4 linked regions of the Homo sapiens genome follow. The protein of the gene in region 4 interacts with the protein of the main gene of each other region in a pairwise test. Each region holds a gene or a part of one and is shown on either strand. Other genes may lie near its edges. The genes, in order: ANKRD46, RNF152, FUNDC2 and KIR2DL3.

What was found.
Region 1: the proteins of KIR2DL3 (region 4) and ANKRD46 interact in binary tests that used the Homo sapiens proteins (3 or more experiments, as listed by UniProt).
Region 2: the proteins of KIR2DL3 (region 4) and RNF152 interact in binary tests that used the Homo sapiens proteins (3 or more experiments, as listed by UniProt).
Region 3: the proteins of KIR2DL3 (region 4) and FUNDC2 interact in binary tests that used the Homo sapiens proteins (3 or more experiments, as listed by UniProt).

What each region holds. Positions count from the first base shown.
Region 1 is NC_000008.11:100,528,741-100,535,764, reverse strand, and holds part of ANKRD46 (ankyrin repeat domain-containing protein 46), read left to right. Parts: intron 1-2,453; 5' UTR 2,454-2,556; intron 2,557-3,304; exon of another isoform or gene 3,305-3,409; intron 3,410-5,904; 5' UTR 5,905-5,931; coding exon 5,932-6,242; intron 6,243-7,024.
Region 2 is NC_000018.10:61,882,988-61,890,011, reverse strand, and holds part of RNF152 (E3 ubiquitin-protein ligase RNF152), read left to right. Parts: intron 1-7,024. UniProt on the Homo sapiens protein: E3 ubiquitin-protein ligase that acts as a negative regulator of mTORC1 signaling by mediating ubiquitination of RagA/RRAGA and RHEB.
Region 3 is NC_000023.11:155,029,825-155,036,848, forward strand, and holds part of FUNDC2 (FUN14 domain-containing protein 2), read left to right. Parts: intron 1-3,578; coding exon 3,579-3,729; intron 3,730-7,024. UniProt on the Homo sapiens protein: Binds directly and specifically 1,2-Diacyl-sn-glycero-3-phospho-(1'-myo-inositol-3',4',5'-bisphosphate) (PIP3) leading to the recruitment of PIP3 to mitochondria and may play a role in the regulation of the platelet activation via AKT/GSK3B/cGMP signaling pathways.
Region 4 is NC_000019.10:54,733,613-54,741,521, forward strand, and holds the start of KIR2DL3 (killer cell immunoglobulin-like receptor 2DL3 precursor), read left to right. Parts: upstream 1-4,900; 5' UTR 4,901-4,933; coding exon 4,934-4,967; intron 4,968-5,894; coding exon 5,895-5,930; intron 5,931-7,909. Other genes in the region: KIR3DL3 (killer cell immunoglobulin-like receptor 3DL3 precursor), read left to right, coding at 1,641-1,745, 2,208-2,260, 2,359-2,484. UniProt on the Homo sapiens protein: Receptor on natural killer (NK) cells for HLA-C alleles (HLA-Cw1, HLA-Cw3 and HLA-Cw7). Inhibits the activity of NK cells thus preventing cell lysis.

The sequences.
Region 1 (7,024 bases), on a different chromosome or scaffold from region 4:
TACTACTATGGATAAAAAAGGGACAAACTATGGATACACACAGCTACCCTGGATGAATCTCCAGAGAATTATACTGAGTGAAAAGACCAATCCCAAAAGGTTCCTGTATGTGCTGTATGGCTCCATTTATACAACATTCTTGAAATGACAGAATTAAAGAAGTGGAAGACTAGGTAGTGTTTTCTAGGTGTTAAGGAGAGACTGGCATGGGAGGGAAGCAGGAATAGCTAAAAAGGGCAACATATGAGAGATTTTTCATGGTGATGGAAATGTTCTGTATCTTGACTATATCAATGTCAGTATCCTGGTTGTGATGTTGTACTATAGTTTGGCAAGATGTTACCATTGGGGGAAACTGGATAAAGGGTGCACAGGATCACTCTGTGTTATTTCTTACAACTGCATATGAATTTATAATTATCTCAAAAAGTTTAATTTAAAAAAGTCTTTAGTCCTCTTCACCCATTGGACAATCGTTAAATATGTGCTCTGATTTGTATTCACTTTATGACTTCTTAGGGAAGCTATTAACAGAGTCTAGTGAGTAAGGTCTAACTGAGGTCTTGGAAGTTTTCTTGGCAGGTTTCTAGTAATTTAGTCTAATGAATTTGTATAATATTATTATGAAATCATACAAATCTGTAATTTGTTCAAGTGTATTTTCTTATGGGCCATTGTAATATCCAAAGAAAATGGCAGGCTGGTTGCGGTGGCTCACGCCTGTAATCCCAGCACTTTGGGAGGCCAAGGTGGGTGGATCACCTGAGGTCAGGAGTTCAAGACCTGCCTAGCCAACATGGTGAAACCTCATCTCCACTAAAAATACAAAAATTACCCAGGCATGGTGGCACATGGCTGTAGTCCCAGCTACTGGGGAGGCTGAGGCAGGATAATTGCTTGAACGCGGAGGCCTCTGCAGGTGAGTCGAGATTGCACCACTGCACTCCGGCACCAGCGACAGAGTGAGACTCTGTCTCAAAAATAAAAAAAGAAAAAATTGCAGAAGCATTGTCCTTCTTGTGGATTTAAGAGAACATTAGGATTATTTGGGGGCATGACCATATGAACTATAATTCCATCTCTAGATGAAAAACAAAATTTTTTCTTTTTCCCTAATGTGAGCTCTACCACATCCAGAATAACCCACTTGCACCATTTTAATTAACATTGAAAATTAAAGCCAAATCATACATTAGAGACAGGCTCTAGTCGTTAAAGACTCAGCTCTAGAGGTCAGGACAAGAGAGGAAAAATATTAGGCTTTGGGTGAATACATAATATTTGTTTAAGGAAATCAAGGTAAGTGGCTCCGTGATATGAAGTTCGTCTAAATTGATACTGTGGTATCACAAAAGAAGTAGGAAATGAGGAGCGTAGATGTTTTGTGTGTTATCATGTCTTCGTGATATTTACTGACCCTCGTGTGGGACTGGTCCTCAGGTACAGTTTGTCAGCTATTGTCATCAGTTCCAGCCTAGCACTGATAGCCTTTATGATACAACCTGACTTACATATTGTAAATGGAGCTTTGTAAAATACCATTAATTATTTCCCTATATAAATTTGTTCACAGGGATTTGATAACAATGAACAAGGATGATCGGTAAAAAGTTAACCTGTATTTCACCCTGACCAGGAATTTGGGATTTGGACTTGATAGCATGGTATCTGGCACATTGCAGGCACACAGTGAATGTTTGTTTCATGAACTAATATTGCTATTTTTGTGGTCCTTACTGCCTGCCCATGACCCTGCTTCCACGGTCCTTCCAGAGAAGAGCTGAGTGGGCAGACAGGGTGCCCTCGTAGTCTCTCTCAGTGCAGAGAAGTGCAGCCTGGGTGGGGGAGCAGCGTCAGGCTATGTAAAGAAGACTACAGATAGACTTGGGCCAGCTTTTATTTCACACTGAAAAGACAAGGAAGGGAACAGATTTAAAGAGATTTAAGTACCAGCATTCAAGGTAGATTAGAAATACTTTTTCTTAAATGTATCCTGTTTGGTTTAAATATAAGTATTGGCTTTTTAAACTTATTTTTTCCCACTATGAATAGTATTTTATTTATAAAAATGCTTTTGTGGACTAATCTGGGATCTAGCCTCCATTTATAATGTGAAAAATATGCATTCTGAATTCCAAGTAATGACTGAGAGTGAATTTTCGGAGCCCAATTTGTTCTTTAGTGATGGCACATAATTTGATTCTTATTCTTTTATCTTTCTGTCTTGCTTTCTTGTTTGTGGGCCACAGAGCAGCTTCTATTAAGCCCTTCTTTGCTTCCTTTTCACTACTTTGTTACTCGTCAGATATTTTTCTGGCCTCACAAGTTGATGCCTCACCTACAGATTTTCTAGAGAATTTCTTCAGGCTCAGTAACCTGTCTGTATTTAATAGAACAGTGAGTTCTTTTTCTCACCACACTTCTATTATAACTTAATTTTCTATTTACTGTAGATCCTTGCCAGCACATTACAGAATATTTTTGTTGAACCTTCTTGAGAATTCAGAGAAACTGCTGAGTGACCACTGAACGAAAAGATCTAATCTTAAGGCTTACGTGAGTATTTACTACTGTGGACTTCCTCACAAGATGTGAAACCTTCAGTGAACTGCTTTAGGACAGATTCAGTTCTGTGATCAAGATGAAAAATAACTATCATTGGGCTTATTAAATGTGGGATTAAGTTTAGTAGTTGCTCAGGGACACAGAGAAACTGACAAAATACACACTTGTTCTCACCTGAAAAATAGACACAGAGACTTGTATTTCTTGCTGAGCCAACACTCAGAAGTATCCTAGTCTGCAAACCACAAGAATTCTTACTGTGTCTGAATCAAAAACACCAACTAGATTTTTTAAATTATCTATTTTTAAAAATTTAACCAAAACACATTACCTTTTGAAAAGCACTTGATATGTGGCATTTCATTTTGAAAAAGGTTTATGATAGCTTTTCCATTTTTATGATTCAATACTGTGCAAGCTTGTCCAACCTGCAGCCCAGAACAGCTTTGAATGTAGCCCAACACAAATTCATAAACTTTTAAAAAACATTCTGAGATTTTTTTTGCAATTTTTTAAAGCTTATCAGCTATCATTATGTATTTTATGTGTAGCCCAAGACAATTCTTCTTCCATTGTGACCCAGGGAAGCCGAAATGTTGGACACCCTTGCTGTAAGGGAAAATATTTAGATTACCCTCGCAAAAGAATTCTTGACTATTTTATTGAGTAAATTCTTCTCATTGAGTTTTTCTGTTTGTTGGTTTGGTTTGGTTTGGTTTGGTTTGTTTTTTTGAGACAGGCCTCACTTTGATGCCCAGGCTGGAGTGCTGTGGCTCAATCACAGCTCATCGCAACCTCGACCTCCCGGGCTCAAGTGATCCTCTCACCTCAGCGTCCCGAACAGGTGGGACGAAAGGCGCGCGCCACCATGCCTGGCTAATTTTAAAATATTTTATAGAGACAGGGTCTCTCGCTATGTTGCCCAGGCTAGTTTCGAACTCCTGGGCTTCAAGCTATCCTCCCATTTTGGCCTTCCAAAGTACTGGGATTACAGGTGTGAGCCACTGTGTCCAGCCAGATTTTTAAAAAGTCATCATATGTATCATAATCTGAAGTTTATTTTGATTTTAATCTCTGTAGTTTTTAATCATAAACTTTTTTTCGTATTTGAAATTATTCTTAACAGCCCCTTTTCACCCTTCATTTCATATCCAGTGAGTCATTAAGTTGTGCTAATTCTGTCTTCTCTGTTCCTCTCCAGTGCGTCCCCTTCTGCCTGCCACTGCCTTAGGTCAGGTTTTCATTTCTTGCCTAGATAGCTGCAATGACCTAATGATTGATCTCCCTGCCTCCAGTCTTTGTCTCTACAATCCAGTGCCTCCATATTGCCATCCAAGTCATCTTTCTGAAAGACTAATAAGACTGTGCCATTTCTTTGACTTAAAATTCTTCAGTGGGCTGGACTCATTGAAATAGTAGTCCCAGCTATTTAGGAGGCTGATGTGGGAGGATTGCTTGAACCCAGGAGTTTGAGGCTGCAGTGAGCCATGATTGTACCACCGCACTCCAGCCTGGGTGACAGAGCAAGAACCTGTCTCAATTTAAAACAAAAAAAATCCTTCAGTGGCTCCTCACTGAAATTCAGGTATAAAAAAGCCTAACTGTGGAGTTGTTAGGAAGATTAAATTAAATTCATTAAAAGCTCCTAGTTGGTACCTGGCTCAGAACAAGTCTCAGTGTATGTTAATGCCCACTCTTTCCACAGAGAGCCCATGGTAGCAGCAGAGCCCTTGTGTAAGGCAGCCCCAGATTTTGGGACAATGGCTCTGCTGAGAAGCCAAGTTGAAAGGAATAGGGGCAGCAATCTCACCAAACTCAGCAGCCAGGCTTCCCTGAATCCCCTTGAGGTTAGGCACAAGAATAGATGGGTCTAGCGTCCAGTTCCATCAGTGTTTCAGAAAGAGACTTTACCTGATCAGCTGTATAAGCCAAGTCCATATGTGACTAAGCTTTTGTAACCTAAGAATAAAAAAGCCATCTCTAGAAAAGCATTGGTCTCTGCCTTTCTGTTTTCTTGTTTGTTTTCTCGTCAATTTCCTAGCGAAGTTTCTTTTGACAGGCTTTAACTCTTTCTTAAATGAACCTAGGGGAAGAGAGAGAGACCTAGTTGTATGCAGTTTGGTAGAGCAAAATGTCCTGAGAGTTCAGGTGCACCAGGCAGATGCTGAACTCTCACCTGAGTTCAGGTGCGCCAGTGGGGCCAGGAAACATCTGTGAAAGAGATGTGGGCAAACTGGTGAGCTGGATGAGTCCAAGAGATGAAATTCACATCAGACCTAGTTGGGATTGCTGCTTTGTCCTGACTTGGTATTCCCAGACAGCCCTACTTTTTTTTCCCCTCATCTCTCAGTCTTTGGACGGTGGGAATTTGGCACAGTCACATATTGAGATAACCACAGAGCACAGCAGAATAAGATCAATAGTGGAAAAAGCATAATCTGAATTGATTTCATGCTCTGATTTTTAAATTCAGTTTGTTACATTCCTTAGCCTTTCTCTTAAAATTTGTGCTATAGGCCAGGCGCGGTGGCTCACGCCTGTAGTCCCAGCACTTTTTGCAAGGCCAAGGCAGGCGGATCATGAGGTCAGGAGTTCAAGACCAGCCTGGCCAACATGGTGAAACCCCGTCTCTACTAAAAATACAAAAAATTAGCTGAGCATGGTGGCAGACACCTGTAATTCCAGCTACTTGGGAGGCTGAGGCAGGAGAATCGCTTGAACTCGGGAGATGGAGGTTGCAGTGAGCCAAGACCGCGCCACTGCACTCCAGCCTGGGCAATAGAGCGAGACACCATCTCAAAAAAAAAAAATTGTGCTATAAACATAACACTCTACAGGTCTTTGTTGAGTATAAGTTCTTTTCATGCAAGTAGTTTTAGTTACCATGTAGAATATCTCAAATACAAGAAGAAGCAAATATATCAAAGAGAATTAGTTTGTATTAAATAAGAATGTCTACCAGCAGTAGCATTTATATATGGGTAGTTCTTTGATGTTTAAACACCATGTTATCTATGTGTTCTGACAATGTAATACTTAAATCTAAGCTATTATGTCTTGCTTAACTTTAAAAATATCTCTTAATCTTTTTACATGGTGAAAAGCAAAATAGAGCTTTACAGTAATTGAATTGGAATTTTAATCCAGCAGATGTGAAGAAAATAAAATGTTTTAATGGAAAATAAAATACAATTGATAACTTTGTTGTTGTTTCTGTTTGGTCATTTATTTATTAGAGGCAGGAGGCCAAAAAGGATGAGAAATATTGCTTTTCTAAATGACTCCTTTGTCTTGATTTCATTTGTCTTCATGGAATCTCACTCACCTATTTCATTACAGGCGTGTTCCATCCACCACATCAGAACAATGTCGTATGTTTTTGTAAATGATTCTTCTCAGACTAACGTGCCCTTGCTGCAAGCCTGTATTGATGGGGACTTTAATTATTCCAAGCGGCTTTTGGAAAGTGGCTTTGACCCAAATATTCGTGACAGCAGGGGCAGAACAGGCCTTCACCTTGCAGCAGCTCGAGGGAATGTAGACATCTGCCAGTTACTGCATAAATTCGGTGCCGATCTTCTGGCCACAGATTATCAAGGAAACACAGCTCTTCACCTCTGTGGCCATGTGGATACTATCCAATTTTTGGTTTCCAATGGACTCAAAATTGATATTTGGTAAGTTCTCTGTTGTTTTAGAAGTCTAGTCATTTCTTCCCATTAATCTCTCAACTGATAATCTTATCTTGGGTCTGTTGGTTTTGTTTCCTCATTAATCAGTTGAAATAAGTTCAGAAAGCATTGAAGACAGTGTAATCCTGTTAGGCAAGTGAGGGAATGAGGGGCTGACTTCTAGATTTTTGCTAAAGCAGCATATTTTTTTCTATGAAAATAGTAGGTAGTTTCTGCTACTAATTATGTAGTGTTACAACAAGGGAAGAAGAAGAAAAGAACATTTGTTGAAAATCTATGAGCTAGACTGTGTTTACTTGTTAGCTCATTTAGTCCTCAGAATGAAGAGCTCTCACAATAGGTGTTTTCATTTTACAGATTAGATAGTGAAGACAAAAAAGGATTGGACAAAGTTCACACAGTTTATAGAGGATTTGAAAAGGTCACAGCTTATAAGGGACAGAGCTGGAATTTGAACCTAGTTCCGCTGACTCTAACGCTTGTGTGCCTTCTGTCATGTAACGCACCATGTGAGCTTCATAATCTCCCGGGAGTCCAGGATCCTTTTTAGACTGAACAATTTGAGGAAGTCATGGGGCTTTTTGTTTGTTTTAGTGATACTCTGCTTTTTGAGTGGGAACGATGTCAAGTCACCTGTAAAACTGAGCTTGACCTTTAAATTACAGTTACACACTGCCCTAATTTATTGATGCCATAATGCCCCTAAATCTGAATAAGACAGTAAATGCTTTTGTTTCTGCAGGACAAAATGGGGTAGGAATTGACTG
Region 2 (7,024 bases), on a different chromosome or scaffold from region 4:
AAATAATTATAATCCTCTCTTTGCCTATTTCAAGTGCATGTTTACTCTGAAGTGAAAGGCCATTAGGTATTTTCAAGGCTGATTCTAGGAGGTTGTGAGCTTAGCATTATGTAATAGAGAGGTGTTACTTACAGACTTTCTCTTCCTCACCATCTGCCTCTTGTTTAAGGCTTCCTGAGTTTGTTTGGAACCGCCCAGGGTAGAAAAAGAGTGGCAATGGGCCTAGGGCCACCCAGGAGGTGGCCTCCTGCAGCAGAGACCACAGGGCAACAGATAAGATCTGAAGGGGGCAGGAATGTGTTTAGGGTAACCTTGGGTCACCCTTTTGTTACTTTGATGTTTAGAAAAAGCAATTTGGGCAAGAGGCTTTTTCTGGTCACAGGACTAGTAGAACACCCAGAGAGTTTAGGGACATTTGTGCTTCCATCAGCAACTGTATTGACTAGGAGGGTGGTGAGTTCTAAAGCCTTCCTTGCCTCACTCTCCCTAAAAAGAGTTGGATGCTATGGAATAGGCATTGCAAGGTGCTCTGGATTCAGCAGTTGGTGGCTTGCAGAGATTTTGCTTTGGGAAGAGCTGTTCACTCATATATCTTTGTTCACATTGTGATAACGGCATGCACGGGTGAGCCATTTTAAAGATTTGATAAATACCTTAAGCATAAGTGTAGAATTTAACAAAATAATATTGCTTTTGGTTCAGTAATCACCTTGGCAAAGTCATTTTTATAAAGATAGCTCTCCAAATAAGGAAGTGGTGTGGTAAACTATGTTAGTCTCCAAGTCACAGTGACTGAGGGGATATCAGTATCAACCTAGGGAGGTTGAGACCACCCGGCTTCATTCAAGTGATAAGATGTAGCACCCAAAGCGTTTCTGAATTGGGAGATGAGCAGCTTGGAGACCAGCAGGAAGAACCAGATATAGACCATCCAAAAACCCATTCAGGGTGCCTGGGGTTGGGCTGAGGGCCAGGCACAGACTGAGGGAGAAGGAAAATGAAAGCCCCGAGGGACTAGTCTTGAACTATATTTGGGAAGCCCCAAAATGCATTTCTATATTTTCTCTGGCCTCTGGGTCCCTACCACTTTAATTTCATACCCAAGTCGGCTGGTCAGGTAGAGGACTCTTGTGGCATGAAAGTGGTTTCTGGCACTGCCCATTGTGACGTCATGGAAACCGGAAAGGAAGAAGGTGTTGGTTTTCCTGCTTCTTTTCCCATGGCTTCGAGAGTTACACTGTGTGATCCAGCAGTCTGACTCCATGATTGAAATCACAATTGGGATAAAGTTGGTAGAGATGCTTCTTAATTTACAGTGGGGTTATATCCTCATAAACCCCTCATAAGTTAAAAATATTGTAAGTGGAAAATGCATTTAATACACCTACTGACATCATAGCTCAGCCTTGTCTGCCTTAACTGTGCCCAGAAATGCGCATTAGCCTACAATGGGGGCAAAATCATGTAACAAGAAGCCTATTTTGTATTAAAGCATCAAATATCTCATGTAGTTTATTGAATACTGTATTGAAAGTGAAAAACAGATTGGTCGTATAGGCACTCAAAGTACGGTTTCTACTGAATGTGTATTGTTTTCACACCATTGTAAAGTCAAAAAATCAAAGGTCATAGGTCAAACAGTTGTAAGTAGGGAACCGTCTGTGCTTGTTACATGCTTAGGGATTTTCAATTTCTAATTGACTCACTGTCATTGTAGGATTTAAAGAGGGAGACCTCAAATAGTGTATCTGTGACCTGCATCTCCTTTGGGTGGTTCTTGATGTCCATGATTTCTTGGCCTAGATCACGTTTGGCTGCTAAGGCCTGGACTACGTTCTTCGTGGAGTTGTGAGGGGGCTGCTTGTGATCGCCTAGGAGTGGAGAGGATGCCTTATTTACCCCTTGATATACTAATGCCTGCATAAATAAAACTCATTGCAAACATCCTGCATGATGAAACTTACTCAAACATCACATAGACTTCCTGGTTACCTGCCTTTCATGCAAAGGAGGGGCTGAGCAAATGAAGATGTGCTGCTGGTGGGAGCAAAGTTATGAGGAAGTAGAATCTCCAAATGCTGTGTTCTGTGCTTGTATTTTCTCTTTCTACAACCTCCTCTCCCCTGCCACTATCGCATTCCCACCTACCAAGGAAGTGTAACTTTCCCGGCTCAGTTCTGATCTAGACATCCAGATAATCACACTTGGTGCACTCCTCACTGAGGTTTGACAAGAATTGAAGAGATTTTGGTAAAAGCTTTGACAGATACTGTAGAAATAGGGAGCATTCTTTTTTTTTTTTTTTTTTTTGAGATGGAGTCTCACTCTGTCACCCAGGCTGGAGTGCAGTGGGGCATGATCTCAGCTCACTGTAACCTCTGCCTCCTGGGTTCAAACTATTCTCCTGCCTCAGCCTCTCGAGTAGCTGGGATTACTGGGATAATTTTTTCTATTTTTAGTAGAGACAGGGTTTCATCATGTTGGCCAGGCTGGTCTTGAACTCCTGACCTCGTGATCCACCCGCCTTGGGCTCCCAAAATGCTGGAATTACAGGCGTGAGCCACCGCACCTAGCCAGGAGCATTCTTCTTACTATTGCTGTTTCTGCTCCTTGACAGATTCACTTAGTGACAGTTGCCACTGCCGCATCTTAGTCAAGAACCTTGTTTCTCTCTGGGCTATGACAATGGTCTTGCTCACTTTCTGGCTTTCCCACCCCACTCCAGTTTGGAAAATGCTGTCACTCTTAGACCATTAGGCCAATTAATCCTTCATCCCCTCACTTAATAACTTTTAGTTGCCCTTGTGGGAGGAAGCTCATATTCTTCAGTTTTGCTTTTCAAGTTTTCCCCAGGTTGACCCCAAACTTCCTTTCCAACCTCGACTTTTGCTCCGCCTGACTTTAAAACTGAACATTAGCTGGGATGGTTAATCCACTGTTGCCCAAAATGTTTTTCATTGCCTCTTTCTTATTCTAGCACATTCTGTGGCCTAAAATGTCCTCTTCCTTCCTCTGCCTCTATCCTATCATCGAAGCCTCAGTTCAGCTCTCAACTCTTCTGAAAAATTTAACTTGATCACATTAGCCTTTAGAAATTCTTTATAATCCAAAGTTCTCTGGCAAAATTGCCTCCATCTCTCATTTCATTCAACATTCATTCATTCATTCTACAAAGGCCACTTGTCATAGATTGTCTTGTATTATCACCTACGATTGAAGTGTCTTTTTCTTTCTGTTTAATTGCAAAGAATAGAAATTCACTCAAGCTTGTTTGCATAAAGGGAGGTGAATTGAAGAGATGTCCCAGGATGTCTTGTCATCAAGCCACATTTCCCAAGAGTTCCAGTGAATGGGACCCTTCCAGTTATCATTCACCCTGGACCTGCTTAGTGCAGGAGAGGGTTGGGGGCACAGTTCCTTCCAAGGGGGCCTGTGGCTGGCTGATGTAGCAGTTGTGACCTGCAATTAGCCTACAATGGGGGCAAAATCATGTAACAAAAAGCCTATTTTGTATTAAAGCATCAAATATCTCATGTAGTTTATTGAATACTGTATTGAAAGTGAAAAACAGATTGGTTGTATAGGCACTCAAAGAGATCTCAGTTCTCTTGCAAGCTCCTTAAAGATGACTGGATGAGGCTTTACACCATTGTGTGTTTGCCACCGTGTTTGTACACAGGAAGGGCTCAATAAACAAATCATTGGTGACTCTTTGACAACACAGAAAACGATTTTGACTTACAGTGATTTAAAGGAATTTTAGACCCTTTTAGCTTGAAGTCTTAAAGGAAGTTAAGAAGATAGAAACTTATTTTTAAGAGCTTCCCCTACTTGCATTAATAATGATTAAATGTTGAATCAAATTAGAATGACCAGGCTGCAGTACGTATACCAATGTTTGGGAGGTGAATGTTCTCAATGAGGGTCATGATTCTAACAAAATTAGTTGTTACTCAAAGCCTGTTTTTCAACTTCCATTTGCCTCCTACTTTGCCCACAAAAAAAAAAAAAAAAAAAAAAAAAAAAGAAAGCAAAAGAAAGCAAAAGAAAAAAAACCTCTACTTGGTGACATACAACAAGCAGCTTTAGGACTTTACAGCCTACCAGACCACCCCACAATCTAACGGAGCAGGCATTGATGCCTGGATTTGTGATGACTGGGTGTAGTTGCCCACCGCTGACTGCCCCACCTGCGTTTATAATTAAAGGCTTCAATACCTTTGTGATATACATCTGTTTTACCTCCCTTTTTTTGATTTTGGAATACTCATTCACATGATAGAAACTCTTCTTTGATACTCAAAATGCTTGATCATTATGAGAGTGTTATTATGAAAGAGGGAAATATGTTCAGCTGCTTGAAGAAAATGACCAGAAATACATTAATATTAAAATAACGCTCTCGGCTGGGCGTGGTGGCTCACGCCTGTAATTCCAGCACTTTGGGAGGCTGAGGCGGGTGGATTACTTGAGGTCAGGAGTTTGAGACCAGCCTGGCCAACATGGTGAAATCCCATCTCTACTAAAAATACAAAAATTATCCAAGCATGATGGTGTGCACCTGTAATCCCAGCTACTTGGGAGGCTGAGGCAGGAGAATTGCCTGAACCTGGGAGGCAGAAGTTGCAGTGAGTTGAGATCGCACCACTGCACTCCAGCCTGGGCAAAAGACCGAGGCTCTGTCTCAAACAAACAAACAAAACACTCTCAGTTTGAAAGGTAGTGAATAGGGCTGAGATAAGTGTCTCAGGAACCAAGTATTTGTTGTGATATTCTTTTGCAGTTGTGTTGTTCTGGGGTAGGTTTGCAAATTGCTTCCTCGAAGATTAATAATATGAGATTAGAAGTGGTTGGTGAGCACATGGACAAATTTGTGTACTTTGGAGAATTTACCCCTTTTGTTGCATGAGACATAAGATTACTGCCATTTTAAGTGAGTAATAGTTAATTCAACCATGCAGGTAAAGAGGTGTCCTTAACTGGGATAAATAGTCCATCCACTCCACTCCTTTACATTGGTACTTCAGAAACTGAAGGTACAGATCCATCCATTCACCTATGGTGGTGTGTAAAATAGCATTTGAAACACTGAGCATCAGGTATTTAAACCACTTATTAGGCAAACAATTGCATTCATTAAATGTATTTTGAATGGCCAGGCATGGTGACTCACGCCTGTAATCCCAGCACTTTGGGAGGCTGAGGCAGGCAGATCACCTGAAGTCAGGAGTTCAAGACCAGCCTGGCCAACATGGAGAAACCCCGTCTCTACTAAAAGATACAAATTAGGCAGGCATGGTGGTGGGCACCTGTAATCCTAGCTACTCTGGAGGCTGAGGCAGGAAGAATTGCTTGAACCTGAGAGGTGGAGGTTGCAGTGAGCTGAGATTGTGCCACTGCACTCCAGCCTGGGCGACAGAATGAGACTGTCTCAAACAAACAAACAAACAAAAGAATGTTGAATGCCTATGTTTTACCAGGCATAATTCTAAAAAAATCCCTGCCTTCTAGCTTCCTGTAGGTATTTAACTCATAATTAATTTGGTTTTCTGCTTTTTTTTTTTTTTGTAATGGCAAAGCTAAAAGGGTAGAGAATAAAAGAAATGTATCTGATATTCTCTCAATTCTTGATACCTTAGCATATATGCCTGCCTTACATGGCTCTAATTCAGGTAAGTCATTATGAACTGGAATTTTAAAAAGTAAGATGGGTTTGGGTTTAAATTTCACGTCTGCCACGTGACCTGAGTGCACAAGGTCTGACTGAGTTTGTTCTTCAGCTGCAAAATGGGGGAGAACCGACCTCATTGAGTTAGTGTAAGAACAGGAGAGACTTACATATAAAGTGCTTAGTGTGTTGCCCTCCACAATGTAAGACTAAATAAATGGCAGCTGTTGCTAACGTCCTTATATCCAGCATCTACCATCCACCAATCATTGGGCTCAGTTCTGGAAATATCGGGATGAATAGGCATGGTCTAACCTGAAGAAGCCCTTAAGCTAGCCAAGGAGGTGATGGCATCCAAGTAACTACAGCCTTCAGCGTTTACATGGGAGTTTCTTTTACCTGTCATTATTGTCAGAGTCTTTGGTTTGAAAGTCTGTAAAGCTTTCAGTGGCTCTGAGTTTAAAATGATAGGCCTTCTCAGGAGGAAGTGGGGAAAAAGCTGGAAGCAACTGGAGGAGAGGAGTCTGAGAAAGGGTTCTGAGCTAGCCCCCAGGCAACCTGAGTCTTCCTTAAAGGAGATGAGTCGCCTTTCTCCTGTGGCCTCACTCTTCCCAAGTGAAATGAAGGACATCCTCTTTCTCAGGGTCTGCTTTCTTGGGAGTAGAGTGACCCCCAGACTTGCCCATGACTAAGAGCATACCTGGGTCATGGAACTTTCCGTTTTAAAACAGTCCCAGAAAAATTGGGATGAGCTGGTCACCCTCCAGTCTTGTTCTGTGATTGTTGTTTGACATCCTGAAGCAGGCTTTGTAGAGATCTAACATTGTTAGTAGAGATACAACCATCCTACAAGAGAGGAGCAAGCGGGGCAGAATAAAATGGGAAAAAACATTGTAGCCTTGTCAACCCCTTTATTTAGGAATCTGCTTTTTGGAATGGGATATTTATTATTATTAAAAAGAAGAGAACTGTTTAATAAAGGCAAGGAATCTAGGCTATACAATATAAATATAAAGTTAATGAAACCTTTTAGAAATTCTTCTTAAAAAGGGGTAGCCGCTTGGGGCCCGGTACACAGTAGACACTCAGTAAAGACTTATTGAAATGGTGGCATCAATTTATTCTTCAGAAATATTTTTGAAAGCTGCATAGAGAAGTGCAAGAGGCCTCTGAGACATGCATTCCAGGACAGGTTGAGGGGCTGAACACTGTGGGCTTTGAACCAGTCTGCGCCTCACTCTTCTGGGCCCTTCCATCACTCATTTGAAAATGCATGCATCTAGATATGCTCTGGGTTTCCTGTGCTGGTATCTGAGTGTGTTTATGTATGAGCTGATGCTCTTCATGACTGTGTTT
Region 3 (7,024 bases), on a different chromosome or scaffold from region 4:
TATATGGAGAGAATGAACATCTTAAAAATATTGAGTCTTGCAAAACATAAACAGTATATCACTGTTATTTTAGGTCATCTTCAATTTCTTGGCAGTGTTTTGTAGTTTGCAGTGTTTTCTAGTTTACAGTGAACAGGTCTTGTGCATCTTTCATTGAATTTACTACAACATAATTTTTGCAATTAAAATTATTTTGTTTTCCAATTCATCATTTCTAATACACAAAAATTCAAATGACTTTTTAATATTGGTCTTATAATGTGTGACCTTGCTTCTGGTACCTTTTTGTAGATTTTTCTGGGTTTTCTATATACACCGTTATATTATCTGCCAATGAAGACAGAATTATTGTTGTACCTCCTTTCTAATCTCTTTGACTTTTATTTCTTTTCTTTTGTTGCACTGGCTAGGAACTCCAGTACAGTGCTGGGCGAGGTGGCTCACACTTGTAATCCCAGCACTTTGGGAGGCTAAGGAGGGAGGATCACTTGGGGCCAGGAGTTCCAGACCAGCCTAGGCAACAAAGTGAGACCTCCTGTCTACAAAAAAAAAAAAAAAAAAAAAAAAATCAGTTGGTCATAGTGGTGCACAGCTGTAGTCCAGCTACTGGGGAGGCTGAGGTGGGAGGATTGCTTGAGCCCAGAAGTTTGAAGTTGCAGTAATCTGTGATAGTGCCACTGCACTCCAATGTGGGTGATAGAGTGAGACCCTGTCTCAAAACAAAACAAAAAACAGTTGAATAGATTTTAGGGAAAGAAAAGTGTTCCATATTTCACCATTAAGTATGATGTTAGTTGTATATTTTTCATAGATGTCCTATATCAGATTGAAGAAATCCCTTTCTATTCCTATTTTCTACTTTTTTTTTTTTTTTTTTTGAGATGGAGTTTCGCTCTTGTTGCCCAGGAAAATGGGCAGTGGTCTGATCTCGGCTCACTGCAACCTCCGCCTCCCAGGTTCAAGCAATTCTCCCATCTCAGCCTCCTGAGTAGCTGGGATTACAGGCGCCTGCCACTATGCCCGGCTAATTTTTGGTATTTTTAGTAGAGACGGGGTTTTACCATGTTGGCCAGGCTGGTCTCGAACTCCTGACCTCAGGTGATCCACCCGCCTCGGCCTCCCAAAGTGCTTGGATTATAGGCATGAGCCACCACGCCCAGCCCCTATTTTCTACTTTTTATTCTGATTTTTTTCTTTGATTTTAAAGTATAAAATTTCTGTAATTATTATTTTTTTACAGTAAGTATTCATTTAGATTTATCCACCTATTTGCCCATTCCAGTGTCTCATTCCTTTCTGCATTTCCATATTTCCATGTGGCATCATTTCTTGTCGGCCTGAATAACTTTTGTGTACCTCTTTGAATATTACTTCTATCCCATTCTTTCTAATCTTCTGGAACTCCAATTACATATATGTTTAATCTTTTGAGCAGTTTTTGATCATTGTTATTTGCTTACTTCAGCATCTTGATCATCACTGGTTCTGTTTCTGTTTCTGTTTCTTTTTCTTTTTTCTTTTTGGGACTGAGTCTCGCTGTGTCACCCATGCTGGAGTGCAGTGGTGCGATCCTTGGCTCACTGCAACCTTCGCTACCCGCGTTCAAGTGATTTTCCTGTCCCAGCCTCCCGAGTAGCTGGGACTACAGGCACATGCCACCACGCCCAGCTAATTTTTGTATTTTTAGTAGAAACAGGGTTTCACCATGTTGGCCAGGCTGGTCTTGAACTCCAGACTTCAAGTGATCCGTCCCCCAGGCTTTCCAAAGTGCTGGGATACAGGCGTGAGCCACCGTGCCTGGCCTGCTTCTATTTCTTTTATTTAAACAAATTTTGTTTCCTTTATATGGCTTTGCCTTTGCATGGGTAGTAGTCATTTTCTATTGTTTGTTACATTATGTGTGAAAAGATTGTACACACTCCATGCCAGATGAAGTTGATCATTTGAGGTCAATTTTACAGTAAACAGCTTTGAATAGTACATTGCTGACATTTCATATCAGACATTTCTTAGTGCGGTGTGTTTCCAGGGAAACAGGGCTGGGTATAGTAGGGGAGCCTGACATTATCTTCCCACAGAGAAAGGGATTGACATTTTGTTAAGTCTTTCTCCATGCTTGGGCAAATCATTTAACTTTGGAACCTTCATTTCATTTTTTTTTTTTTTCTGAGACGGAGTTTCACTCTTGTTGCCCAGGCTGGAGTGAAGTGGCGCGATCTCGGCTCACTGCCACCTCCACCTCCCCGGTTCCAGTGATTCTCCTGCCTCAGCCTCCCAAGTAGCTGTGATTACAGGCGCATGCCACCATGCCCAGCTAATTTTTGTAGTTTTAGTAGAGACGAGGTTTCACCATGTTGGCCAGGCTGGCCTCAAACTCCTGACCTCAGGTGATCTGCCCACCTTGGCCTCCCAAGGTGTTGGGATTACAGGCGTGAGCCACCACGCCTGGTGCCTTCTTTTTTTTTTTTTTTTTTTTTTTGAGATGGAGTCTCATTCTTGTTGCGCAGGCTAGAGTGCAGTGGTGCGATCTTGGCTCACCGCAACCTCTGCCCCTCAGGTTCAAGTGATTCTCCTCCCGAGTAGCTAGGATTACAGGCATGTGCCACCACCCCCGGCTAATTTTGTATTTTTAGTAGAGATGGGGTTTTTCCATGCTGGTCAGGTTGGTCTTGAACTCCCGACCTCAGGTGATCCACCTGCCTCCGGCCTCCCAAAGTGCTGGGATTACAGGTGTGAGCCACCATGCCTGGCCTTCATTTCTTAATTATAAAATTGAGTTAATAAGTAGTACCTACCTTATTCTGTGGATTAATTAGATGTACATGATTAATGTTTAGCACATTGCCTGGTAAATAGTAAGAGCTCAATTAAACATTACCCTCTCATCTTCATTATCACTGGAGATCCACGTAGTACTTAGAAAATTTGTGGATTACTGAATAGCATTGAGCTACTTCTGAAGAGAAGGGGCAAATTTGTTTCATTTGGGATGCATTACTGGCAGTTTTTTATAGGTCTTTTTGGATTTATTTATTTATTTGAGATGGAGTCTTGCTCTGTTGCCCAGGCTGGAGTGCAGCGGCACTATCTCGGCTCACTGCAACCTTTGCTTCCTGGGTTCAAGCAATTCTTTTGCCTTAGCCTCCTGAGTAGCTGGGATTACAGGTGCCTGCCACCACGCCTGGCTAATTTTTGTATTTGTAGTAGAGATGGGGTTTTGCCATTTTGGCCAGACTGGTTTCGATCTCCTGACCTCAGGTGATTCGCCCACCTCGGCCTCCCAAAGTGCTGGGATTACAGGCGTGAGCCACCGCGCCCAGCCTTTTTTGTTATTTTTAAATTTGAGAGGACAAACTAGAGGACTAATTTGAGATTTTCTAGGTTTTTCCCTGTAATATAGACATTAGTATTTGCTGATTTTAGTCTGATTTTCCAAAATTGCAACTTAGAATAAATTTACTATTTAAAATAGAATATTTGGAGGTTTCTTATTACATTTATGTCTGTTTCTTTAAATATCTCAATCTAGTTAGGTATAAAAGTAAATATTTTCTTATTTAACGTATTACTTCTTGTAGGAAACTTTGAGGGAAATTTTGAGTCACTGGACCTTGCGGAATTTGCTAAGAAGCAGCCATGGTGGCGTAAGCTGTTCGGGCAGGAATCTGGACCTTCAGCAGAAAAGTATAGCGTGGCAACCCAGCTGTTCATTGGAGGTGTCACTGGATGGTAAGTGATGTGAAAGATGTCCACTGTCTTTTGTGCATGATTTAGTATTGCAGTTATAGGTACCATCATCTCCTTTAACCAGTGAAAACACATTGGCTTCTGTGAAATTGGTCACTTAATGTGGAGCATGTATCTAAACATCATCTTAAAGTACCATTTAATGGTTACACATAATGATTGTTTCCTATATGCCAGGTTCTGTTTGAAGTATTTACATAGATATCTCATTTCCTTCTCACAACTCTGGAATTAGTACTGTTATTTTCTATCCTCATTTTATAGAAACTGAGGCTCAGAAAGGTTAGTTTGCCCAAGGCCACATAGCTGGTAACTGGTAGAATAAGGAGCTAACTACTTATTAGCTATGTCAGATGATAACTTAATGTGACACAGCTTATGGTTTCATTTGTAATAAATTCAAAAAGTAATAGCAAATTTCATAGGTGAATATTGAATCCATTAATCTCATAGACTCTTTACATTTGAAAAATTTTATAGCACCATATAGCAAATATAGAACAGCACATTTAACAGGTGTACATTTTAGCAAATACTTGGAGTGAACACCTATGTAACAACTGCTAAGGTTAAAAAAAACGTGGCTAGCGCCCTAGAAACTCGAGAGGTTATTAAGCAGTTATTTCATTGCTTTTCTTTGTAGTTTTAACACCAGTTATGTCACTAAATAACATACTGTGGTTTACCTGCTTTCCACCTTAAAGTAAATGCAATCAGTATGTATTCTTTTGAGTCTTGCTTTTTTCGCTCAACCTGATGTTTCATATATTCAACTACATTGTGTATAGTTGTAGTTTCTTCACTTTCACTTGTATTTTGAGTTCCATTATGTGAATATACCACAGTATATCCAGTTGATGACTGATATTGGAGTTGTTTCCATTTTTGGCTAATACTATGCTTATATGAGTATTAGATTTCCCAGTGTATATGTGCATACATTTCTGTAGGGTCTGTACCTAGAAATTGCTAGGTAATGGGTATAGGTATCTTCAGCTTCACTAAATAATGTCAAACCACCTTCCAAAACTGTTTTTAACAGTTTACAGTCCCAGCAAGGACCAAATGAACCTGTTGTTCTACATGGTGGCACTTGATTTTGCCAGGCTATTAAATTTTTAAAAAATTAGTTAATTTTTCCTTAGCGAGGTAATCAAGTTAAATCCAGACTATAAAAATTTTACCAGTCTGGTAGTTAGGTAGTAGTATTTCATGGTGGCTTCATTTACATTTCCCTGAGTAGGAGTGACATTGATCGACTTTTACGTATGTTTGTTGACCATTTGGATCTCCTCTTTCAGTTCCACTCTAGTTTTTTTCCTCTGAAGTTGTCATTCTTTCCCTTGTTAAGCTGTAAGAGTTCTTTATATATTCTGAATATTCTCAGTCCTTTGTTAGTTGTGTGTATTATAGATATTTTCACTCATTCTGTGGTTATCTTTTCGTTTTATGGTATCTTTTGATGAACTGAAGATCTTATTTTTAATATAGTCAATTTTATCAATCTTAACCTTAATGGTTAGTGATTTTTGTGGCTTATTTAAGTAATCTTTGCCTACCCCATGTTTCAGAACTTTTATTATTTGACCTTTCACATTTAGATTTATTATCCACCTGGAATTGTTATTGTGCTCAGTATGTGGTAGATTCCTTCTTTTCTTCCCCATGTGGAATACCCATTTGTCCCAACTTAATTTATTGTGAAAGCTATCCCTTTCCCCGCTGCTTTATGTGAGTGTGTGTGCGCATGCATATGTGTGTGTCTGCTATCTTGTTCTTTAGGAACATCTTGGCTATTTTCTTTATCTCTTAGTTTTTAAATTTAATAAATAGGTATATTATAAGTTGCACATATTTAAAGTATAAAATTTGATACATTTTTACATATGTACATGCCCATAAAACCATCACCACAGTCAAGATAATGAACATACCTATCACTTCAAAAGCTGCTTTGTACCTCTTTGTAATTCCACGCTCTTTCCTTCATGCCATCCTCCCGCCACTGATCTGCTTTCTATTACTATAGATTATGTTTTCTAGATTCTTTTTAGAAGTGGAATTACATAGTATATATTCTTTTTTGTCTGGCTTCTCTTATTCACCATAATAATATATTTTTTTGTTTTGAGACGGAGTCTTGCTCTGTTGCCCAGACTGGAGTGCAGTGGCACGATCTTGGCTCACCGCCTCCTGGGTTCAAGCAGTTCTCCTGCATCAGCCTTCACCATAATAATTTTGAGATAATCTGTGCTTTTCTGTTTATCAACAGTTCATTCCTTTTTATTGCTAAGTAGTACTCCATTGTATGGATGTACCACAATCTGTTTCTCCATCCACCTTTGATGGACATTTGAGTTTTTTTTTCACTTTTTAGCTGTTACAGATAAAACTTCAAGTTTGTATACAAGTGTACAAGTCTTTGTATGAACATATGCTTTCATTTCTTTTGGGTAAATATCTAGGAATAGTATGGCTGAGTCACGTAGTAAGTGAATGTTCTAAATTTACAAGTACCTGCCAGTTTTTAAAGTGCCTGTACCATCTTACATCTCCACCAGCAATGTGTGAGGGTTCCAGTTCCTCTGCATCCTTACTAACACTTGGTATTATCTTTTTGATTACGAACATCTTAGTGGGTATGAAGTTGTATCTCATTGTGGTTTGAATTTGCGTTTCTCTAATGACTAATGATGTTGAGCATTTTCACGGGCTTATTTTTTGCCATTCATATATCTTTGATGACTTATTTGTTCAAATCTTTTTCCACATATTTTTATTGGGTTGTTGGTTTTCTTTCACTGCTGAATCGTGAGAGTTCTTTAAATATTCTGGATAGAAGTCTTAGATATGTGATTTGCAAATATATTACTTCTCTGTAGCTTTTCATTATCTGAACTGTACCTTTCAAAGAGCAGAAGTTCTTAATCTTGAAGTGCAGCTCTTTTGTAGCTCCAGCTTTTGGTGTCATGTCTGAGAATATTTGCCTAATCCAGGGTCACCAAGATTTTCTCTCGCTTTTTCTAGATTGTATATAGGTTCGGATTTTATATTTAGTTCTGTGATCCATTTTGATTTACTTTTTGTATATAGTATAAGGTAGGAATCCAAGTTTTTTTTGCGTATGGGTATCTAGTTGTCCCCACATTTGTAAAAAAAAGACTGTCTTTTTCTCCACTGAATTGTCTTTACACCTATGTTGAAAATCAGTTGACTATATGTTTTTGAGCTCTTTGTACTGCCAAATTGATCTAGGTGCCATTATCATGCTGTTTTG
Region 4 (7,909 bases):
TTAATTCTTTGACCCTTTATCTTATCCATTAAACAATCAGGTTAAACCTCTTCCTTATTTGGCTTTCTGTGAGCTTGGGATCATATGGAAAATGTGAAAGCCTCCTGAACCCACCAGCACAGGTCCTGGAATAGAGAACGTGCTCTGTTCATGGCATAAAACTTGCCCCTTCACCCAAATCCCCCAATTCATCTCTACTTCCAATCACCTATGGAGATACAGATAGATCATGGGGAGGTAAACACTAATACTCTTTGGAGTGAGCTCAGATCTTGGACTCAGAGACCAGTGCCAGCACTAGCCCCTGGTCACATTTCGTACTAACTCACAGAAGGACAGGCTGTATTGAAACAATAAACGACGGAGAGGGCGGTCCTTCCCCGTGCTTCTCGGGTGGAATAGCAGCCTAATATATGTCTCAGCAGATCACAAAAAGTAGCATGTTGTTCCTGGGCTACATCATTATTTCATGGCTGTTTGATTTAAGTCAGTTCTACTTCACTTTTTTTATCTTGATTTCATTTTTTCTTTCTTTTCTTGGAGAATGTAATTTTTTTGAGTCAAGAGGGTTGTGGTGGTAGAAACTGTAAAGCACATTCGCTGTGTATCAATCCCAATCCAGTCTTCCCAGAGAAGATTCTAAACACCTCCTGGAATGCACCTGGGCCTATACCAATTCCTATCACTCACCGTCACTCCAGGGAGACAGAACACACAGAGAACACATTACACAGGCAGGTTCATTACTAACAGATAAGCAGCGAGTGACAACAGAAACCTACATTTCAATGTGAGCCAGTCCCTCAAGGCTCAGAAAAGCTGCTCGAGACATGTGGAGTCACCCCATATGCAGTGTATCTGGGGGAAATCAAAAAGCAGCCCAGCCTGGGTTTTGTACCCTGGAGCCACAGGAAGCACTCAGCTAAAGCACTGCATGACGTCCTCCTCCAGGAAGAACAGGAAGACAGCCCAGGCTGTTCTGGGATGTTCCTCCTGATCTCAGGACGTTGCTGTCTTAGTCCATTTTTGTTGCTCTAAAGGAACACTTGAGCCTGGGTAACTTCTAAAGACAAGAAATGTGTTTGCCTCACAGTTCTGCAGGCTGTACTGGAAGCATGGCACCAGCATCTATTTCTTGTGACGGCCTCAGGCTGCTCCCACTCTGGCAGAAGGGAAGGAGGGTCTGTCTGTGCAGAGACCACAGAGATCACACGGCAAGAGAGGGACCAAGGGGGAGGGGGAGCGATGGAGCTTCCAAGCTCTTTTAACAACCAGTTCTCCAGGAACTAATAGAGGGGGAACTTGCTAACCCCGTCTCCTTGGAACAGCATTGATCTGTTCATGATGGATCCACCTCCATGACCCAAACAACTCCCAAGAGGCCCAACCTCCCACTCTGGGGGTTACATTTCAATGTGAGGTTTGAAGGGGTCAAACATCTAAACTAAAGCAGTTGTATCCTCAGCACGTTCTATGGTTACTACAACTGAGAAAGCAGGAGGAAGCTAGGTCTCCCGCCATCTGGGTGCTTGTCCTAAAGAGACGTTGTATGTGGTTACCTGTCAATCAAGAAATGTGAGACAATTCATATAGAGGAACTGCTATGATTAGCTTCTTATTGGTGTCTTGTCTTCCTCCAGGTAACTCCAGAAACCTGCACGTTCTGATTGGGACCTCAGTGGTCATCATCCCCTTTGCTATCCTCCTCTTCTTTCTCCTTCATCGCTGGTGTGCCAACAAAAAGAGTAAGTCTCACGAAGCAGAAGCCAGAGAGCTCAGGGCCATGTGGGGAAGCAGGATGGGAGCACTCAGGTGTGTGTTCCTCACAGACTGGATGGTCCCTGGCCCAAGGCAGGAGCCACAGAGGCAGGACTTTCTAGAGAGAGCACCAGACTCCCTGCCTCTGCCTTCAGCTCACAGACCATTGCCTGATTCTGAACCGTATCCTCACATCCCCTGCAGCCACTCACATCCAGGAGAAGGTTCCATGACAGGCAGAAAGTGGGACACAGAATCAATAGGATGGGAACTCAGAGCTATACATGGGATGGATCCTTGAGCTCAGAGAGATAGAATGTCTGAGTCTGCTGTTGGCAACTGAGGGACCTCAGGCACCTATGGCCTCCCCCTGTATGTTGGTATCTGCTTATGAAATGAGGACCCAGAAGTGCCCTCCGAGCTGTTTTGACGACTTCCGTCTTCTACAGATGCTGTTGTAATGGACCAAGAGCCTGCAGGGAACAGAACAGTGAACAGGGAGGTAGGTGCTCCTCCGCCCAGCCTCGTGGCTAGTCTTATTCCCAAAGAGTCCTGGAAAATGTGAGCACCCTCCCTCACTCAGCATTTCCCTCCCTCCAGGACTCTGATGAACAAGACCCTCAGGAGGTGACATACGCACAGTTGAATCACTGCGTTTTCACACAGAGAAAAATCACTCGCCCTTCTCAGAGGCCCAAGACACCCCCAACAGATACCAGCGTGTAACACGGAACTTCCAAATGCTGAGCGCAGATCCAAAGTTGTCTTCTGTCCACTAGCACCACAGTCAGGCCTTGATGGGATCTTCTAGGGAGACAATAGCCCTGTCTCAAAACCGGGTTGCCAGCTCCCATGTACCAGCAGCTGGACTCTGAAGGCGTGAGTCTGCATCTTAGGGCATCGCTCTTCCTCACACCACGAATCTGAACATGCCTCTCTCTTGCTTACAAATGTCTAAGGTCCCCACTGCCTGCTGGAGAGAAAACACACTTGCTTAGCCCACAATTCTCCATTTCACTTGACCCCTGCCCACCTCTCCAACCTAACTGGCTTACTTCCTAGTCTACTTGAGGCTGCGATCACACTGAGGAACTCACAATTCCAAACATATAAGAGGCTCCCTCTTAACACGGCACTTAGATACGTGCTATTCCACCTTTCCTCAGAGTATCTTTCAGCCTTCTGTCAGCAGTAAAACTTATAAATTTTTTTTATAATTTCAATGTAGTTTTCTATTCTTCAAGTAAACATGTCTGCCCTCATGGTTTCTTCAATGGGACTCTTTTCTTGCCTAAGGCTTCCGGTGTTATCATTACCACGTCCACATAACCCCATCTGTTCTCCGCTGGGTTCTCAGCCCTGGACTCTGAGCTTCTGGAAGCATGGTGGAGCCTGAATTGTCTCTGAGACTCCAATTTCCATCCAAAGATGCAGCACATAGGAGGTTCCAAGGATGGTGAATCAGATGAACAAGTGATATTCTTACTCTCTGCAGATCTGGAAAGCTGGCAGAGTCATTCCACGATGAAACATTTGTAGAGTCATAGGCCTTGTTAGTCTCATCTCCACAGGGACACGTATCAACACATCATCTTTCATACTACTATAAATAGACAGTCACTCCTCCATATCTCTGGGGTTTACACATGTTTATTGAATCAGCAATAAATCAAAAATATTTTGAGAAAAAAAATCCCCGAAGTTTCAAAAAGCAAAAAACTATGTTGAATCGACACAAATTGAGTGGCGTGTAGGCTGTGTCAGGAATTATAAGTAATCAAGAGATGATTTCATGTATACAGGAGGATGTGCATGGGTTCTATGCAATTGCTATGCTATTTTTTTTTTTTTTTTGAGACAGTCTCACTCTCTCACCCAGGCTGGAGTGCAGTGGCGTGATCTCAACTCACTGCAACCTCCGCCTTCCAGGTTCAAGCGATTCTCTTCCCTCAGCCTCCCCAGTAGCCTCCCCTAGGATTACAGGCACGTGCCACCATGCACAGATAAATTTTTTTGTGTGTATATTTTTAGTAGAGATGGGGTTTCAGAATGTTGGACCAGCTGGTCTTGAACTCCTGACCTTGTGATCTACCCAGCTCAGCCTCCCAAAGTGCTGGGATTACAGGCGTGAGCCACGGTGCCCAGCTTCACTATGCCATTTCATGCAAGGGGCTTGAGCATCTGCAGATTTTGGTATCTGAATGGGGATCCTGGAACCAATCACCCAGGTATAGTGAAGGACCATGGTATATAATTTTTATTTGTCAATCTTAAAAATAAAGCATAAAAAATTTACAACAACAAGATAAAAAATAAGAAGTGTTTTTATAGTGTGAGGATAAGTTTAGATTTATTTTTTCCTACGTGTAACCCTATGGTCCTGTGTTATTTGTTGAGAAAATATTCTATTCCACCTTAAACTACATGGCAGCCTTTGTCAACTATAAAGGGACTGTGTATCCACAGATGTATTTTAGACACAGTTTTCTGTCCAGTGGTTCTCTGTATCCCCTCTCATGAGGATGCTGCATTTTATATAAACTTATAGAACCCCTTAAAATTTGGTAACCTGAGTCCTCTGATTTGTTATTATAGGTTATTTAGTTTGCTTTTTTTTTTTTTCTTGAGACAGACTCTTCCTCTGTCACCCAAGCTGGAGTTCAGTGGCTTGAGCTCAGCTCACTGCAACCTCCGTCTCCCAGGTTCAAGCTATTCTGATGCCTCTGGTTTAGTAGTAGAAACTCAAGCAGGAAAATTAGAATGGCTTCTTGTCACAATTACTCTGATAATGTTAATAATACCTGTTAGACATTTTGCACATTACATATGAAGAAGAGTTTGAATCTCAGATAAAAACAAAAATACATCAAAAATCTTTAATGTAAGCACAGAATTCAATCATCTCGTGTATGAGAGGTTGGATCTGAGACGTCTTTTGAGTCTGGTCGTAGTGAAGGACGCAAGGTGTCAATTCTAGTGAGAACAATTTCCAGGAAGCCATGTTCCGCTCTTGAGCGAGCACCCACTGGGCCTCATGCAAGGTAGAAAGAGCCTGCGTACGTCACCCTCCCATGATGTGGTCAACATGTAAACTGCATGGGCAGGGCGCCAAATAACATCCTGTGCGCTGCTGAGCTGAGCTGGGGCGCGGCCGCCTGTCTGCACAGACAGCACCATGTCGCTCATGGTCGTCAGCATGGTGTGTGTTGGTGAGTCCTGGAAGGGCATCGAGGGAGGGAGTGCGGGGATGGAGATCGGGGCCCAGAGTTGGAGATATAGGCCTGGAAGTGGAGTTATGGGCCTAGAGATGGAGTGATGGGCCTAGAAGTGGAGATCTGGGCCTGGAGTGGAGATCTGGGCCTGGAGTGGAGATATGGGCCTGGAGGTTGAGATATGGGCCTGCAGTAGAGATATGGGCTTGTAGTGGAGACATGGGCCTGGAGATGGAGATATGGGCCTGGAGATGGAGATATGGGCCTGCAGTAGAGATAGGGGCCTGGAGTGGAGATATGGGCCTGGAGTGGAGATATGGGCCTGGAGTGGAGATATGGGCCTGGAGGTGGAGATATGGGCCTGGAGGTGGAGATATGGGCCTGGAGTGGAGATATGGGTCTGGAGGTGGAGATACGGGCCTGCAGTAGAGATATGGGCCTGGAGTGGAGATATGGGCCAGGAGTGGAGTTATGGGCCTAGAGGTGGATATCTGGGCCTGGAGTGGAGATATGGGCCTAGGAAGGAGATATGGGCCTGGGTGTGGAGATATGGGACTGGAGAGGTGATATGGGCCTGGAGTGGAGATATGGGCTTAGGGTGGAGATCTGGGCCTGGGGCGGAGATATGGGACTGGATTGGAGATAGGGGCCTAGGGTGGAGATCTGAGCCTGGATTGGCGATATGGGCCTAGGGTGGAAATATCAGCCTGGAGTGGAGATATGGGCTTGGGGTGGGGATATGGGCCTGGAAACTGGGTCTCTGCACAGCCGACAGCCCTGTTCTTGGGTGCAGGTAGGCACTGAGGGTGAGTTTAACTTCAGCCCAGGAAGGGCCTGGCTGCCAAGACTCACAGCCCAGTGGGGGCAGCAAGGGAGGCCTGGTTTGCCTGCAGATGGATGGTCCATCATGATCTTTCTTTCCAGGGTTCTTCTTGCTGCAGGGGGCCTGGCCACATGAGGGTGAGTCCTTCTCCAAACCTTCGGGTGTCATCTCCCCACATAAGAGGATTTTCCTGAAACAGGAGGGAAGTCCTGTCGGGGAGTCTCTCATAAACTAGGAAGAGAGGACCCTGGGGTGCTCAGCCCACATTTCTGACCTCGCCTCCCTGGCCTCTCAACCCCTTGGCAGAGTCAAGTTCTGTGGGGACCAGGGTTAGACTGGGGTGCTCAAAGCTGGGGTGTGTGGTTGGGAAGTGGTAGGAACAGCAGATCCTCTGAGGACAAAGGTGTTACTCACACACTTCAGCGTTTCCATGATGGTAGGGGCTGCAGTGTGGCTGCTGTCATTCTACCAGAAGAGGTGGGAAACCACAGCCATGGCCCTGACATTCCAAATCCTCTGATGGGGGCTCAGTTGTTTATTTTCGTTCAGGCATCCGCTGATATCCATTCACAAAGGACATGCCCTCCACCTCATGTCTACCCTGTGTTGTTTTATGTGAGTAATCTTACAGTATTAAAATCTAGTAGGAGTCTCTTTACTCAGCACTTGCTCAAAGTTCTCAGCTGAGGCTTTTGTTGTAGGGAGACACCATGTCTTTGCGGGATGGGTCCTTCCTTCAGCCCTGGGCACCAAGGTGTGATAGTAGCCATAGAAACGTGGAAAGCGAGGAGAATCTTCTGAGCACAGGGAGGGAAGGGCAGTTCCACATCCTCCTCTCTAAGGCGGCGCCTCCTTCTCCCCAAGGTGGTCAGGACAAGCCCTTGCTGTCTGCCTGGCCCAGCCTTGTGGTGCCTCTAGGACATGTCATTCTTCGGTGTCACTCTTATCTTGGGTTTAACAACTTCAGTCTGTAAAAGGAAGGTGGGGTGCCTGTCCCTGAGCTCTACAACAGAATATTCTGGAACAGCCTTTTCATGGGCCCTGTGACCCCCGCACACACAGGGACATACAGATGTCGGGGTTCACACACACACTCCCCCAGTGGGTGGTCAGCACCCAGCAACCCCCTGGTGATCGTGGTCATAGGTCAGAGGGCTCCTGTCTTGGATTCTCCTTGTCCCACCTCCTGAATCCCAGAGCTTCTGTTGGGCATGTCCTTGAGGGTCCCATCACGCAGGCCCTGACTGTATTTGTGGTAAAGGGGGATTGAATACAGGGAAATGGGTGCTGTGGTGGGAAGAATAATTGTCCCCAGTGATGACTACATTCTAATCCCTGGAGTCTGTGACTATTTATGTTATAGGGGAAGGGACTGAAGGGGAAGATGGAGCTCATGGGGAGACAGCCTGGACTGTCCCACTGGGCTCAGTGTAATCACAAGGGTGCACATGAAAGGAGGAGGAAGAGGGGAGTGGGGATTAGAGCAGTCCAGTGGAAGTCTTCACCAGCTTTGAAGGTGGAGGAAGGCCAAGATCCATGAATGCAGGTGGCCTATAGAGGCTGGAAAAGTCAAGGAACTGATTCTCCAGAGTCTCCAGAGGGAACAAAGCCCTGCAGATGCCTTGATTTTAGCCCAGGAAAAATAGGGTCCAATTTCTGTCTCCAGTACTGGAAGGTGTCAGTGTGGTCTCTCCTGCTGCCATGCTTCTGATAATTTTCTACAGCAGCAACAGGAAACCAACACTGGAACCCAGGTCAAGGACAAGTTAAGAAACAACCCAAGGAAAGCCAGGCATGGTGGCAGGTGCATGTAATCCTAGCGACTCAGGAGGCTGAGGGCAGGAGAATCACTTGAACCCAGGAGACAGAGGTTGCAGTGAGCCTAGACCACACCACTTCACTCCAGCCTGGGTGAAGGAGTGAGACTCTGTCTCCATAATTAATTAATTAATTAAAGAAACCAAACAAGGAGAAGGTTGGCTACCCTGAGATCAGCAAGGGTGGGATGATGATGCCACCACCAGGCTCCATCCACATAGGGAGGGGTTGATACTCCTCCAACCAGCACCAGGAGCCAGCCTATGGAAGCTGGCACCATGGAGAAGGCACAGGCATG